Linked DNA regions of Homo sapiens. The protein of the gene in region 2 purifies or fractionates together with the protein of the main gene of each other region. This does not show direct contact. Each region holds a gene or a part of one and is shown on either strand. Other genes may lie near its edges.

Region 1 (7,027 bases), on a different chromosome or scaffold from region 2:
ATTTCAAAAAATTAAATCTACCCATCCCCTCTCTTCCCTTTCTGAACATGTCCTAGCACAGAGTGTCAGGACTCGACAACCTGGCACGGGAGGGCATTTGTATGGTAAAAGATTAGAAGAAAGTGGTTATATATAAGGGAGTTGATTTTTAAAAAAGTTATATATATATATATAACATTTTAGTTAAATATATGTAATTTTTAACTAAAAAAGTTAAATATATCTATCCAGATAGATAGATACACAGATAGAGAGAGAGAGAGAGAGAGAGTTATAGGTGTCAGGTATCTCACTGCAGAAGTAGAGAGTTACAGAGTTACTCTGGAAACTGAGAAAGAGAGAAAACAAGAATGACTCCTAGAGGGATGGATTGGAATTGAAAGTATCAGAGTGAACTCACAGTTTTCAGTACATAAAGTCAGACATAAAACTAAATATAAATTTCTCCCTTCCTCTCTCACACTACCTTCCAACACAAACACAGACAAACAAAGAAACACACACACAATTTTCCCCAGCTCTGTCCTAAGAGGGCCTGAGACAGCTATACTTCATTAGAATAAACACATGGACTGGGGTTTCTAAATACCATTCTCTCCTAAAAGCAACCAGGACTCCTTGGAGAAATGGCTGACTCCAAGTACAGGATAAGCCTGCAACATCTTTTTTTTTTTTTTTTTTGAGATGGAGTCTCACTCTATGGCCCAAGCTGGAGTGCAGTGGCACGATCTAAGGTCACTGCAACCTCTGCCTCCCAGGTTCAAGCAATTCTCATGCTTCAGCCTCTTGAGTAGCCGGGATTACAGGCACGCACCACCATGCCCAACTAATTTTTGTATTTTTAGTAGAGACAGGGTTTCTCCACATTGGCCAGGCTGATCTCGAACTCCTGACCTCAGGTGATCTGCCCGCCTCAGCCTCCCAAAGTGCTGGGATTACAGGTGTGAGTCACGACACCTGGCCAAGCCTGGAACATCTTATTGCCCCAGAAAATAGGAATATGCTCAAAGAATGATGGGAATAGATCAAAAGGACCCGGAAACCAGCTTGACATGACTCCTAGTGGCCAAATCTGTAATAATTTGAGCACCAAAATTAATAACAAGCATATGAGATTATAACCCATAAAATAAAATAGGAACCCATGAGTCCACACTGATAAAAATAAATGAATATAAAGTTGATATGAATTGGGATATTACAATATCTCATAGTATCTCTCCACAAATTACGTATTAATTGTAAAGTGGGGTGGGAAAGGTAATTTGACTGTGAAGAAGTCTGGCAGACATGATCAAAGTTAATCACCAGTGATGAAACAAATTGAAATCATATAACAGCTTGTGGGATACAATGAAAAGAAAACAGCAACACTTCATTTACATTCCTGCCAAAGTTGTATAAACTGAGTCAAAACATAAAGGGAAAACAGACAATCCCAAATTAAGGGATATTCTACAATGTTACTACTGCTTCATAATCTTTAAAAGTGCCAAGGTTATGAAAACAAAAACTTCCATATTGAAGGAGAACAAAGAGGCATGACAACTAAATGCAAGGAGTGATTATGAACTGGATCTTTCTGCTATAAGAAATATTACTGGCTGGGCACAGTGCCTCACGCCTGTAATCCCAGCACTTTGGGATGCCGAGACGGGTGGATCACAAGGTCAGGAGTTCAAGACCAGCCTGGCCAACATGGTGAAACCCTGTCTCTACTAAAAATACAAAAATTAGCCGGGCATGGTGGCAAGCACCTGTAATCCCAGCTACTCGGGAGGCTGAGGCAGAGAACTGTTTGAACCTAGGAGGCAGAGGTTGCAGTGAGCTGAGATCGCGCCACTGCTCTCCAGCCTGGGTGACAGAAAGAGACTCTGTCTCAAAAACGAAAAAAAAAAAAAAAAGGTAAGTAACAAAAGAAATATTATTGGGGGCTAGGAGCAGCGGCTCATGCCTGTTATCACACCACTTTGTGGGGCTGAGGCGGGGGGATCACTTGAGCCCAGGAGTTTGAGACCAGCCTGGGCAACATAGCAAGACCTCATCTCTACAAATAATTTTTAAAAATTAGCCAGGCATGGTGGCACACACCTGTAGTCCCAGCTGTTCAGGAGGCTGAGGCGGGAGAATCACTTGAGCCTAGGAGGTCAAGGCTGCAGTGAGCCGTGATCATACCACTATACTCCAGCCTGAGTGACAGAGCAAGACCCTGTCTCAAAGAAAAGAAAAGAAATGAATTAAGAAGAGAAGACAAGACAAGACAAGACAAGACAAGACAAGACAAGACAAGACAAGACAAGACAAGACAAATCAAACATTATTGGGACAACTATCAAAACTTGGGATCTAAATCATACTCAAATACCACTATCAATCTGCTAATTCTGATAGTTGAGGGTACAAAGAACTTCCTGAACCATTTATGTAAGTTTAAGATTACTTCAAAATAAAAAGCTTTTTAAAATTAAATCCATCCTCAAAGGACAAATATTTGCCACAATGGAAGAAATGGAAGCAAAGAAAAATGTGCTCTAGATGCTCAAAGCACTCTAAGTGACCTCCAAAAATGCTATGAGCAACAACAGCATTGACAGACTACATTTTTGGTCTTCTGAATCACTAGTTCGTAAATCTGTAAGTTTTGCCATACTTCTTTAATTAATGCCACTCACTCTACAGCTCACCTTTAAACATGTACACTTACAATTAGAATACATATGTCCATAGAGTGTACTTTTTAAAAATCTATTAAACATAAGAAAACCTCAAATGTAACTGCTTGACACTAATACTAAAATGCATTTCTATAGCAGGTTTCTATACTAACCAGAAATGGGATGTCATTGTTGTGAATGTTTTCTTAATCGAGATTATTGCTTTTCTAAATGGGCATAAATGTAAATAAAGGCCATTAACAAGAACATATACAAGTTCTGGCAGATTCAGGACAACTCAAAAATTTTCCATTAACTCCTGGGTTAAAGACATTGAAGCTGCATTTTATTACAACCATCTAATGTTTTCTGCTTGCATCTTGTTTTCTATTAAGTTAATCTATTATGAAAGTGATGCTGAGTTTGTCTAAAGGTGAAGTACTTGGAAATGGATCCTCATTAAGTGTTTATGAACTGTTCTGCCTTTATTATGAAAATCCAAAACGAAACCAGAGGAAAGACAAATGTGAGAAGCACGGTGAGATCCAAATAGAGTCATCTTAATCCTTAGCTGTCTGCTACAAAATTAGTTTCAAGTCCTTGTCAATACCATCATTGTTCAAAGAAAACAAAACCTATCACAAAGAAAGCCTTTAAAATTTTTAGAATATTATTTATTACAATAGCATCAGGGCCTTTGTAAAAGCAGCATCTAAACTATGTCCTCCAGTATCACATTATTAGTAATAATTACAAAATTCCCTTAATCAAGAAAAACAGATTTTGATTCACTGTTTATCTTCTTTCAAAATAAAAGGATATACTATTATATAACAGAAAGAAGGATCTGACCACTAAGAGAGACCACTAATTAACAAAAATAACAATCTTACCTCATTTTCAACCTTCTAATTTTGTCAGTAGATTTATTACATTCTAGGCTATTACTAATTCAAACTTAATGAATGGTCATCTGAATTATATGTTACTGAATGTCCTTTCTCCCACGGAAACAAATTTTGTGTTAGTTCTTTATAACTCCAATTTAGGAATTCTCCTAAATTCTTAATCTACCATAAGCTTTTGCATATATTAATATAAATTTTTTATAACAAACTTTTTTTTTTGAGATGGAGTCTCATTCTGTCGCCAGGCTGGAGTGCAGCAGCGCGATCTCAGCTCACTGCAACCTCTGTCTCCCAGGTTCAAGCAATTCTCCTGCCTCAGCCTCCCTAGTAGCTGGGACTACAGGCACACGCCACCACGCCCAGCTAATTTTTATGTTTTTAGTAGAGACGAGGTTTCACCATGTTGGCCAGGATGGTCTTGATCTCCTGACCTTGTGATCCACTCACCTCGGCCTCCCAACAAACTTTTAATTACATCAGAGATGTAGTGTAACTATATATGTGACTAAAATTGCTCCTTATACAGGTACCAACGGATGACCTCCTAACTAACAAATCAAATAGGATGGCCAATCTTATTGAACTCCTGTAGCACTTAACAATTTTGATAAGTTTCTTGCTTTCTGAACTTCCTCTTGTGACTTCTCTAATGCCACTCACCCCAGTTTTTCTCTTACTCTGCTCAGCCATCCCTTCGTCAGTCACCTTTGTAGGTACCCCTTCCTCAGTCATTCCCTTTAATGTTTTTCCCTTAAGTTCTACATTCAGTCTTCTCATTTTCTTACTGTAAACCTTCTCCCATATACAAGGATTTACTACTACCTAGCTGCTCAAATCTGTAGCTCTAAGAATTCTCCCTTAAGTTTTAAACCCTATATCTGACTGGACACCTTCACCTGGGTGTCCCTCTTAAACTTAGTAGCGTCCAGAACTGAACAGATCACTTTTACTAATGAGCCTGGGACCCCTCCTACACTCCATTATCTTGGTAAAAGGAACATTATTCAAGTCAGAAATCAGGGCACCATTCAAGACATCTCCCTCATTTCTCACATCAACCTGATGACTGAGTCTAACAACTTGTACCTGCTAAATATCTCATACACATCTCCTCCTCTCTTTATTATCATCACTGTCTTAGTTCAGACCCTTACCACACCTGCCCCACTAGATGACTAAGTAGCTTGCTCTCCCAATTTCCAGTCTTACCCCACTCTAATCTACCCTCATGTAATTACCCTATATATTATTCCTCACTTAAAATCCTTCCACAGTTTCCCTGTAACCATTTATACCCTGTGCGAGTTAACGATACATGGTTACCTTCTTAGCCTTATGTCCTACTACTCCCATTAACACCCTGTGTACCTAAGATAGTATCTGTTACACTATGTTAACACTACTAACAAACTATCTGTTTACCAGTCTGTCTCTCCATTATAGTATCAATTCCTCGAGGTCAGGAAGTCCAACACCAGACACAGATATGTCTAGAAAACTGCTTGACTGACACCCAATGAATGAGAAACGGATCAATCAAGTAAGATCCATCTTAGGCTTGCTTCCACTGATCATTTAACCCATAACTGCCTATATTTAATTTTAAAAGTAACTAAGAAGATGAAATTATCCAGAAAATACCTCTAAAGTACACTTCAAACTGCTAAATAATGTATTAGTCATACTGCTCACAACAGTAGTCCAGATAACTCTGTTGACAATGATTTTTACCTATATAAAACAGATTGAGATGATAAAGGTCCTAGGTTCTTAAATTAAGATAATATTGATGTGATCTCTTTGGACCCTCCCTAACGGGAAATGTGTACCCTTCCCCTATAATTGTTGCTTTGGTAGACAAATTTGTCTTAAATAATAAAGAAATTAAAACAATGAATATTATTTATAACCTCAGAGAAGTGAGCAATGACTATCTTGAATTTGATCTGAAATCTTTTTTTTAAATGTCCTGGGTCTTTTAGCCTGTGTACACTCATTAGAAGGCATGCTCTTTTTTTTTTTCTTTAATAAACACTGAACCCTTTCCAAGAGTTTGACAATTATGCAGAGTTTCAATCTCTCAAGATTCACCTTGTCATGTTTATGACAGCAGGGTCAGCAATGTTGACAAGGCTCTTGGGAAACAATTTGTGACAATGCACAGTAACACAACTCTTCTGGCAAACAATGTACCACTAAAAAAAAGAACCAAACCATGCTCATAGTCCTTGACCCACAAACCCCACATAACATAGTATATATCTTGAGATTTTAAAAAAATCCCATTTTTTTTTCAAGAAAGTCAAAAGATGAAAAAAAAGTTTATAAATATAATTTAACAACAAATTATAAGCAACCTAAAGATCCAAAAGCTAGAAGCATAAGTTAGTCAGAATGTGTTTTAAAACATCACTTTTTAAAAATCAGCAATCATATATTAATAAAGATTAGAAAAGACCAAAAGAAACTAAAGCAGTTGGATTTTTATTTTGAGAAATATTTTAAATATTTTTAATATTCTCATTTAAAGCTGAACAGTTCAACTTTAACAGTAAGAGAATTATTAGATCCCTACAGCAATAAAAGCAGTAGCAATTTTTCCAAAGAGACACACAGGTTTAAGGTAGTAATTTTACATTGGGGTCAGAAAGTCTCACCTGTCCATCAATAAACTCAATACATCACATGTACAAGCACTGACTATGCTCCATTCCATTTATGTTACAAACTAATCAGCTATGACTGTTCCTGTTAAACATCCAGGTGATTATCCTCAAATGACCAAAAGGAAGAAAATATCAAATTTTCAACTATACACACGTTTAAAACATTAAAAATAAAAATTACCTTTCTTCTTTGTCCAATGTTTTCTTCTCTGCTGCAGTGACTTTTTTAGGTGGTACAGGAGGGGTCACTTTTCTACATATCTCTTCAATGATGCGTTTGTTCATTCTACTTTGCGATGCAGCTTTTAGTAAAATTCTTTCCACGGCAGTTATACCATCTCCATGACTGTATTTAGGAATTTCTGGTTGGATTAAAATTTCTATGTCATCAAGCCAAGGAGGATAGTAGGAGTTTTGTTTTCCTGAGAGTTTGTGGTGAAGTTTAATTAGCAAAGACAATATGCTTTCTTTAATTTCCAAAATGGCTGTAGTTAACTGTGGAGCTGAACCAGGAGCAGACCATTTACTTGAAGTTTTGGGACGAACCACCTGATTTGCTTCACTGCTACTGCGATTGATGATTTCCTGAAATTTCTTTCTACGTTCTGCTACTAAACTGAAAACTTGAGCTGTACCAGAATTCTACCATTAACAAAGAGAAACAAAGAAAAATCAAGAGAAGTTATTTAGCATCATTTTAAAAACATATTAGTACTATATTTTCTAAAGGGAATGCTCAGTTTCATACAAAGATTTATTCAATAGATTTGCTCTTTAAATAAATTTCTCCCTTGACCTC
Region 2 (7,331 bases):
TCCCAGCTAGTCGGGAGGCTGAGGCAGAAGAATCGCTTGAACCCAGGAGGTGGAGGTTGTGGTGGGCAGTGATTGCGCCACTGCACTCCAGCCTGGGTGACAGAGGGAGACTCCGTCTCAAAAAAATGCATAAAAATAAAATAAAATGAAGATTTTAAAGGCATATTTTTTGTAGCTCTGGAGAAACAGGCAATCTTTTTTTTTTTTTAGACGGAGTTTCACTCTTGTTGCCCAGGCTGGAGTGCAATGGCACAATCTCGGCTCACCACAATCTCTGCCTCCCAGGTTCAAGCAATTCTCCTGCCTCAGCCTCCCAAGTAGCTGGGATTACAGGCATGCGCCACCATGCCTGGCTAATTTTGTATTTTTAGTAGAGACGGGGTTTCTGCATGTTGGTCAGGCTGGTCTCAAACTCCCAACCTCAGGTGATCCGCCTGCCTTGGCCTCCCGAAGTGCTGGGATTACAGGTGTGAGCCACCTCGCCCAGCCAGGCAATCTTATATAATGTTGATAGGAGTACAAATGGTATAATTCCTATGGAGGGAAATCTGGTAATAGTTAACACATTTCAAATGCATTTACTCTTTGACCCAGTAATCTCACTCCTAGAAAGGTATCCTATAAATACACCTGCATGTGTAGAAAATGACCTATGTATAGCTCTTCATTGTGGTAGTGCTATTTTAGCAAAAGATTAAAAACAACCCAAGGGTCTAGCAATAAGAGACAGACTGAATAAATTATATTAATAGTATATCTACCCCATGGAATATTATGCAGCTGTAAAAAGGAGAAACAATCTCCATGCACTCATATGAATTTCTCCTCAGAACAAACTATAAAGCAGGAAAAAAAACCTATTTGGTATAAAAAGGGGTGATTAAAAAAAGAGAAAAGCAATAATATAAAAATACATGTATTTACAAAAAAATACTGGAAGGATAAATAAGAAATGAAGAAATTCGGTTATTCGGGACAAGATGAGGAATGGGTAGAAGGGGACAGGAGTGGAAGCAACATTTTTCAATGTATAGCTCTTTATATTATTTTTGAACCATGTAAAAGTGTTATCTATTCAAAGCGTCAAAATTTAAAACTAGTTTAAAAATATTTTGGCTTTTAAAATAAAATAGCTGTTTATTGAAAAATTTAAATACTTCAGGAGTAAATGTATAAAGTTAAAAGTGAGTCTCCTGTCTGATGATTTCCTTAATTATTAAATTATCCTTTCCTTGGAAAGTCTATCAGTTCCAAAAATTTAATAAGCATCAATTTTGAAATACTGTCAGAGATGTTTTGATCTAGCTACTATATTTATTTTCCTTACCTGTAAAATGCGATCTTGTTACAGTCTCTGAAAATGTTTTTATCTACAGCTTCATCTTCAAGACTAAATAAAAAGACATTTTGAGAAATTTATTTCACACAGGGCTTGTGAATCCAACTTTTGTACCTTCTCTAACGACAGTATGAACATGCAAAATAAACCTTTGGAGTCTATTCTGCAATGCAAAATTGTGTCACGGCCACAGTATAACATAATAGCACATTATGTTGCAGAACAATAGCCTTTTGTAAACCCTCTGAGGTAAACAACAAAACATCAGGTTCTGGGATTACTCCAAAAGTAATGGGAAAAGATCACTGTCACTTATGAGGACATATTCTTTTGAAATAATGACTGAAGGCTATGACCACAAAAGTAAAATCTGAAGGAGGAAAACCAAAACAGCATCCCAAAACGAACAAACCAAAACCAACCAACCAGACAAACTAAGAACCATAACCCACCCACCGATTTATTCAAGAAAATATTTTCAGAATATTCTTCCTGAGAGCTGGGCTCTGAGGAAGATATGAACTGTGTTCAAGCTATCAGTTAGGGTTTTACCAGCAATCACAATACAAGCTGACAAATGCTTTAATAGAGGTGCAAGGTGCTAGAATAAGAACAGAACAGACGTAGAAGGGGAATTTCTTGCTTTTTAAGATGAGGTGACAAACTAGGGGCCATGTTTTTTAAAACCAAGTTTCCAGAAGAGCTGTTTCTGGGATAAAACATGAATGAGATATATGTATATTGAAGTTTGAGTATATGTATTTAAACTAGCCTCCATCTGATTAAAACAACTACAGATTATAAGGAGAAAAAAAAATTACACCGGCTTTCATGCACTAGTGTGGCCGAATGCATCTGTAGTCAGCATGTCCATGATTATGTAGAAAGCTATGACTGAACACAAACGTCGAAATATTATGAAAACAAGCCCAGGCAGATATACTTGGCCATACTAAAAAACTGTTTGTCCTTCACTGAACTCAGTCTTTGTCCGTTTATTTTAATTTATTAAAAAAATTTTTTTTGAGACAGGATCTCGCTCTGCCTCCTACGTTGGAGTGAAGTGGCACGATCTTGGCTTGCTGCAACTGCCGCCTCCTGGGCTCAGGCTATCTTCCTGCCTCAGCCTCCTGAGTAGCTGGGACTACAGGCCCACATCACCACGTCTGGCTAACTTTAAAATTTTTGTAGAGACAGGGATTCAGCATGTTGCCCAGGCTGGTCTGAACTCCTGGGTTCAAGCAATCTGCCCACCTATAGGCCTCCCAAAGTGCTGGGATTACAGGCATGAGCGAACCGGCCCAGTTTATTTTAATCAAGTGTACAAAGATTGGAGAATCTTTTGTTTCCTCTTTACAGCTTCGAAGAATTAACTCTGGGATGATATAGGAAGGGGTGATTATAGATGAATTTGGAAAGCAACATGCCTGAAATTCACGTGTTAAGAGTTCTGATTGCAACTTTTCCACTGTTAATGTTATTTAACCATCCTTTTTTTTTGGAGACAGGGTCTCACTTTGTTGCCCAAGCAGTGGCAAGATCACAGCTCCACTGCAGCCTCCAAATCCATCCTCCCAGTGGTCTCCCAAGTAGCTGGGACTCCGAGGGGGCGGGGAGGGGGTCTCGAACTCCTGAACTCAAGCGATCCTCCCACCTTAGCCTCCCAAAGTGCTGTGGGATTACCTGCGTGAGCCACTGCACCCGGCCTATTTAACCATCCTGAAAGTATTTTATGAGAGGCTATTAATATCAACTAACTTCCCGCGAATTGAGAGAAAAGATAAAGGTCAGCAAATACCAAATACGCAAATAAGAAATGCAATTAAAACACTATTCCCTGTTTCTAGGGACCCTGGGGTCACTCGCTACAGAAGCACTTGGCCTTTACCTTATTTCCTCTTTCACTGCTGCTTCCATGGCTTCTCTGTCACTCCGACCAGCTCCCAGCTCTCAGGACAAGGGCCCTGGGCGATCTTTTAAAAAAGCCGATTGGGTGTCTTTCTAAAATTACAACCAGTACTTCATCGTCAAGTTTCTGGGAAGGGAGTCCCCTCCAGATTCTCATGGAGTGACAAATCTTGACTCTTGCTCCTGGAATTTTTCAGGCCCAAACTAGCGTTTCTACAATGATTTATTTGGCAAATTTGTCTTGATTATGGGTGGCTGATGAGGAACGTGCTTTTGTTAGGAACCGAAACTGGGCGGCGGTGAGGGCGTGTACGCAATGAGTCCTAGAGGGTAAAAATCAAGAGCGTTAAGAACCTGGAAATGCCGAGACGGCCTCCCTGACTGGGACGAAGCATCTGCAGATCTATCTCAGTGGCGGGGTCACGCCACAGATTTTGAAAACTGACCCTCTCTGTCTCCGTTTTCGGTTAAGGGTGGGAAGTGCCGGCCGGGTCTTTGCTGGAGGCTAGGTCTCCAGCCAGATTGTACTGCAGCATCGTACTCTTCAGGGCTAGAAGGGGCCTTTGAAGGTTGTTACACTACCCAGTCTAGGAATCGCGTGTACTCCACCACCGCCGAATTCCAGCCTTTGCTTAAATACCACCCAAACCGGAGAACTCACTACTAGACGCCACTTGGGCAGCCAGGCTTAGGGCTTTTCCAGACTTTCTGGCCCCAAAGTCTGACATTGACTTAGAAGGGATGAAGGGCTGGGGCGAGCGGAAGTAGAGAGCCAAATCCTGCACGGGGTGCCTGCCTGGTCCTAAAACCTTTAACGGCTGGGAGACAGAAAAGACTCAGGCCAGGCTGGCATGTAGCGATCTCTCTAACCCAGCTGACCAGGTTCCAACAGGATGACGCCTGCGCAGTAGGTCCAAAGTCTCACGGCGCACAGACGACTGTCTGAGAGAGGGGCCGCTACGCCGCACAGCAAACAAGCTCCGCGACGTTTCCAGGACCCGGATAATCCCGCCCTTAGAGCAGAGCCGGAAGAAGGCGGGACGAACCGGAAGAGGGTGAAATGCTTTCGGTAGGCACTCCACGGCTGTGAAGATGGCGGCGGCTGCGTGGCTTCAGGTGTTGCCTGTCATTCTTCTGCTTCTGGGAGCTCACCCGTCACCACTGTCGTTTTTCAGTGCGGGACCGGCAACCGTAGCTGCTGCCGACCGGTCCAAATGGCACATTCCGATACCGTCGGTGAGTATTCACTTCACTAACGTCTGAACCTAGAGGAGCAAGGGGTGGGGCTACGGCGGCCCAAGGGGTCCATGAAGGTTCCGCAAAAGTCTCTTCAAAAGGGGTGGGGTTGCTGGGATGGTCTGTGTGGCTAGCCAACTGGGACCCACCTCCCTGGAGTGGAAAGCCGCGCACTTCTGTGATTAGGCTAGCGGGAATGTAAGGGCCACTTCAGCAACAGAAAGGAGTGGTGGAGCGGCTTCTCATCAGAAAAACAGAACTTTCAGTGCCTGACTTGAGATGTAAACTTGATGTACAAACGGAGAGTTGTTTATCTTTCAGATGTTTCACAGAATCCAGTGTCCCCGGGTTGGATAAGAAAGATATGTAAATAGGAGTCTTCATTTCTTTCTTTCTTTTTCTTCCTCTGCACTTCTTGGTCCCTGGGTAATTCTGCTTACGAGATGGTTCGACTTCGCTTCAACTTTGGAATGGCTATTCTAAGCTTTACTGTGTGACTAGAAAGCATAGAGATTTAAGAAATGTGTTTTAACATGGGAATGGTTAAAATTGAAGAAATAGTACTTAAAATTTAATGTGGTAAGGCTAGTCTTTCATTTGGATAATTAACTACATGGGTTGACCCTTTCTGCCCCTTACCCATTTTAAACCTTATTTCAGTAACAGGTATAGTCCTGTGAGCAGACAAAAACCAGATGCAGGGAGGAAATGCTGAAAAGCATTAGCCCCATTAAACCTACGTTGGCCTTTTTGTTTCATTCTGCTCTGCTCACTGACTGTAATGTCCAAATCTTATTTGGGCTTTTATTATGGTAAACGTTATACCTTTTGTTCAGTGGTGAAGATTTTCAGGTGTTCAGTTAGGTTTTTACTTGTTACTAAAATGGTTAATAGTTAAGTCTTTTTAGATTTGAAAATAAAACTCTGGTTATTTGCACACAGAATAGTTCATTAGAAAAAATGATTGGTTATTCTGAGCAGTGATTGGTGAGTAAAGGGAATGAACTGATTAAGGGGTACGTCCCATAAAGATTTAAGTTAAGTTGGAATTTCTAGCAGTCTTAGATAGTTATATGATGCTTTGGTAATTGAAGCCATCTGAGGCTAATTATCTTTCCTTTATGTTTGCAGGGGAAAAATTATTTTAGTTTTGGAAAGATCCTCTTCAGAAATACCACTATCTTCCTGAAGTGTGAGTTTTTGAATTTCATGAAGTTTTAATTTGAATTTTAAAAATTTATAGGTAATGTTTTAAATTACCTATTTTATAAGTTCTGAAATCTAATAGTCTGGCATTATCTAGGTATAAATATTTTTAGTATTACTAAGGTCCTTTTACTGAATCATCTTCAAAGTACTCGTGTGAACTTTATTTTCTTCTCTTGTTTTTCTGGTGTTTACATTGCATATATACACTATGTAGACATTATATATTAGTATATATAATGTATATATTAATATATATGCTGTATATACTACATTGAATATTCAGTCACATCTCAGTCGAATTACATTTACAGTTGATACTTTCTGAGAAAAGCATCCTTAGGTGATTTTGTCATTATGCAAACATCATAGAGTATACTTAAAACTGGATGGCACTACACGCCTAGTTTGTATGGTACAGCCTATTGCTCCTAGGCTATAAACCTGTATAACATGTTACTGTACTGAATGCTATAGGTGGTTGTAACACAATGGTAAGTTTTTGTATATCTAAACATAGGAAAGTAGAGTACAAATACGATATTACAATTTTATGGGACCCCCGTTGTATATGTAGTCTTTCATTTACTGAAATGTTATGTAGTGAATGACTGTGATTATGTTGGGGTTGATTCCCTGCATGGTGGTTTTAATCTGTTCTGTGTAGATTAAAGAGGTTTTACTCTTGTGTGCTTGTTAAATGTTTACTGCAAACATGACCTAGGTTTGTCAGGCCGTTGGCTGTGAAGGAATATATTTAGTAGATCCTTTATTTACAAAAGGAGTATTTTACTGCTTTGGAAGAGGAAGCTCAGATATTATCAAGAAATAGGGATTATGTAGAACAAAACTAGTTTGTCTAGTGGAAAAATGACTGTATCTGAATCTAAAGTATCCCATTGTGTGTTCAGTAAAAGCTTCCTTTTAGTTCTGAAACCGGCTTTAATTTAGAGAACGATTGATCGTGGGCAGCTTTATTTCTAGATGAGGGATAAAAATCCTGATGATAGATGTGTGATTCTATGCATACTGTCTTCACGGAAGTGCAAAATTTTAAGTCATAGTTGGATAATTTTATTCTTTTCAATTGTTTAGTGAGTAATTATTACTTATTGCATAGACTGTGGGGAAGTAATAGAAAAATGTTCTTCCCTCATCGAGCTTACATTCTAGTGGGAGTGAAAACAGCAGGTAGAATTTCTCTGAAGAATATATACTGTATCCATGAATATGTAATCAGTCTCCTGACCAGTGACTTATATTTGATTTAGATCAAATCTACTCTGACACTGGCCTTGTGAGATTGGTTTACTGGGTAACCTAGTAACCCTTGTCTTTTGGAATAGCTTGACAGCCTGTTTGCTGTTTTATTCTTTTATTAGGTCCAGTCTTTTTTTCTCGTGTAGTTTGATCTAGTGGTGTTTTGCCAAGTTAAACCAACTGCATTTTTTTTAAGATGGTGTCTCACTCTGTCACCCAGACTGGAGTGCAGTGGTACGATCTTGGCTTACTGCAACCTCCACCTCCCAGGTTCAAGCGATTCTCCTGCCTCAGCCTCCCGAGTAGCTGGGATTACAGGCATGAGTCTCTATGCCCAGCCCTAACTGCGTATTTTGAAGTGTTTATATTTCATTGTTTTTGG

The links. The genes of interacting proteins can lie anywhere in the genome.
Region 1: the proteins of TMEM87A (region 2) and UBR3 purify together in Homo sapiens (co-immunoprecipitation; 2 studies listed by BioGRID and IntAct, with this or other methods). This does not show direct contact.

The regions. Positions count from the first base shown.
Region 1 is NC_000002.12:169,949,448-169,956,474, reverse strand, and holds part of UBR3 (E3 ubiquitin-protein ligase UBR3), read right to left. Parts: intron 6,871-7,027; coding exon 6,410-6,870; intron 1-6,409. UniProt on the Homo sapiens protein: E3 ubiquitin-protein ligase which is a component of the N-end rule pathway. Does not bind to proteins bearing specific N-terminal residues that are destabilizing according to the N-end rule, leading to their ubiquitination and subsequent degradation.
Region 2 is NC_000015.10:42,270,407-42,277,737, reverse strand, and holds the start of TMEM87A (transmembrane protein 87A isoform 1 precursor), read left to right. Parts: upstream 1-4,304; 5' UTR 4,305-4,339; coding exon 4,340-4,483; exon of another isoform or gene 4,484-4,537; intron 4,538-4,672; exon of another isoform or gene 4,673-4,849; intron 4,850-5,614; coding exon 5,615-5,675; intron 5,676-7,331. Other genes in the region: GANC (neutral alpha-glucosidase C), read right to left, coding at 1,328-1,390, 3,228-3,256. UniProt on the Homo sapiens protein: Potential monoatomic ion channel gated by mechanical force, implicated in normal touch sensitivity through the generation of mechanically activated currents.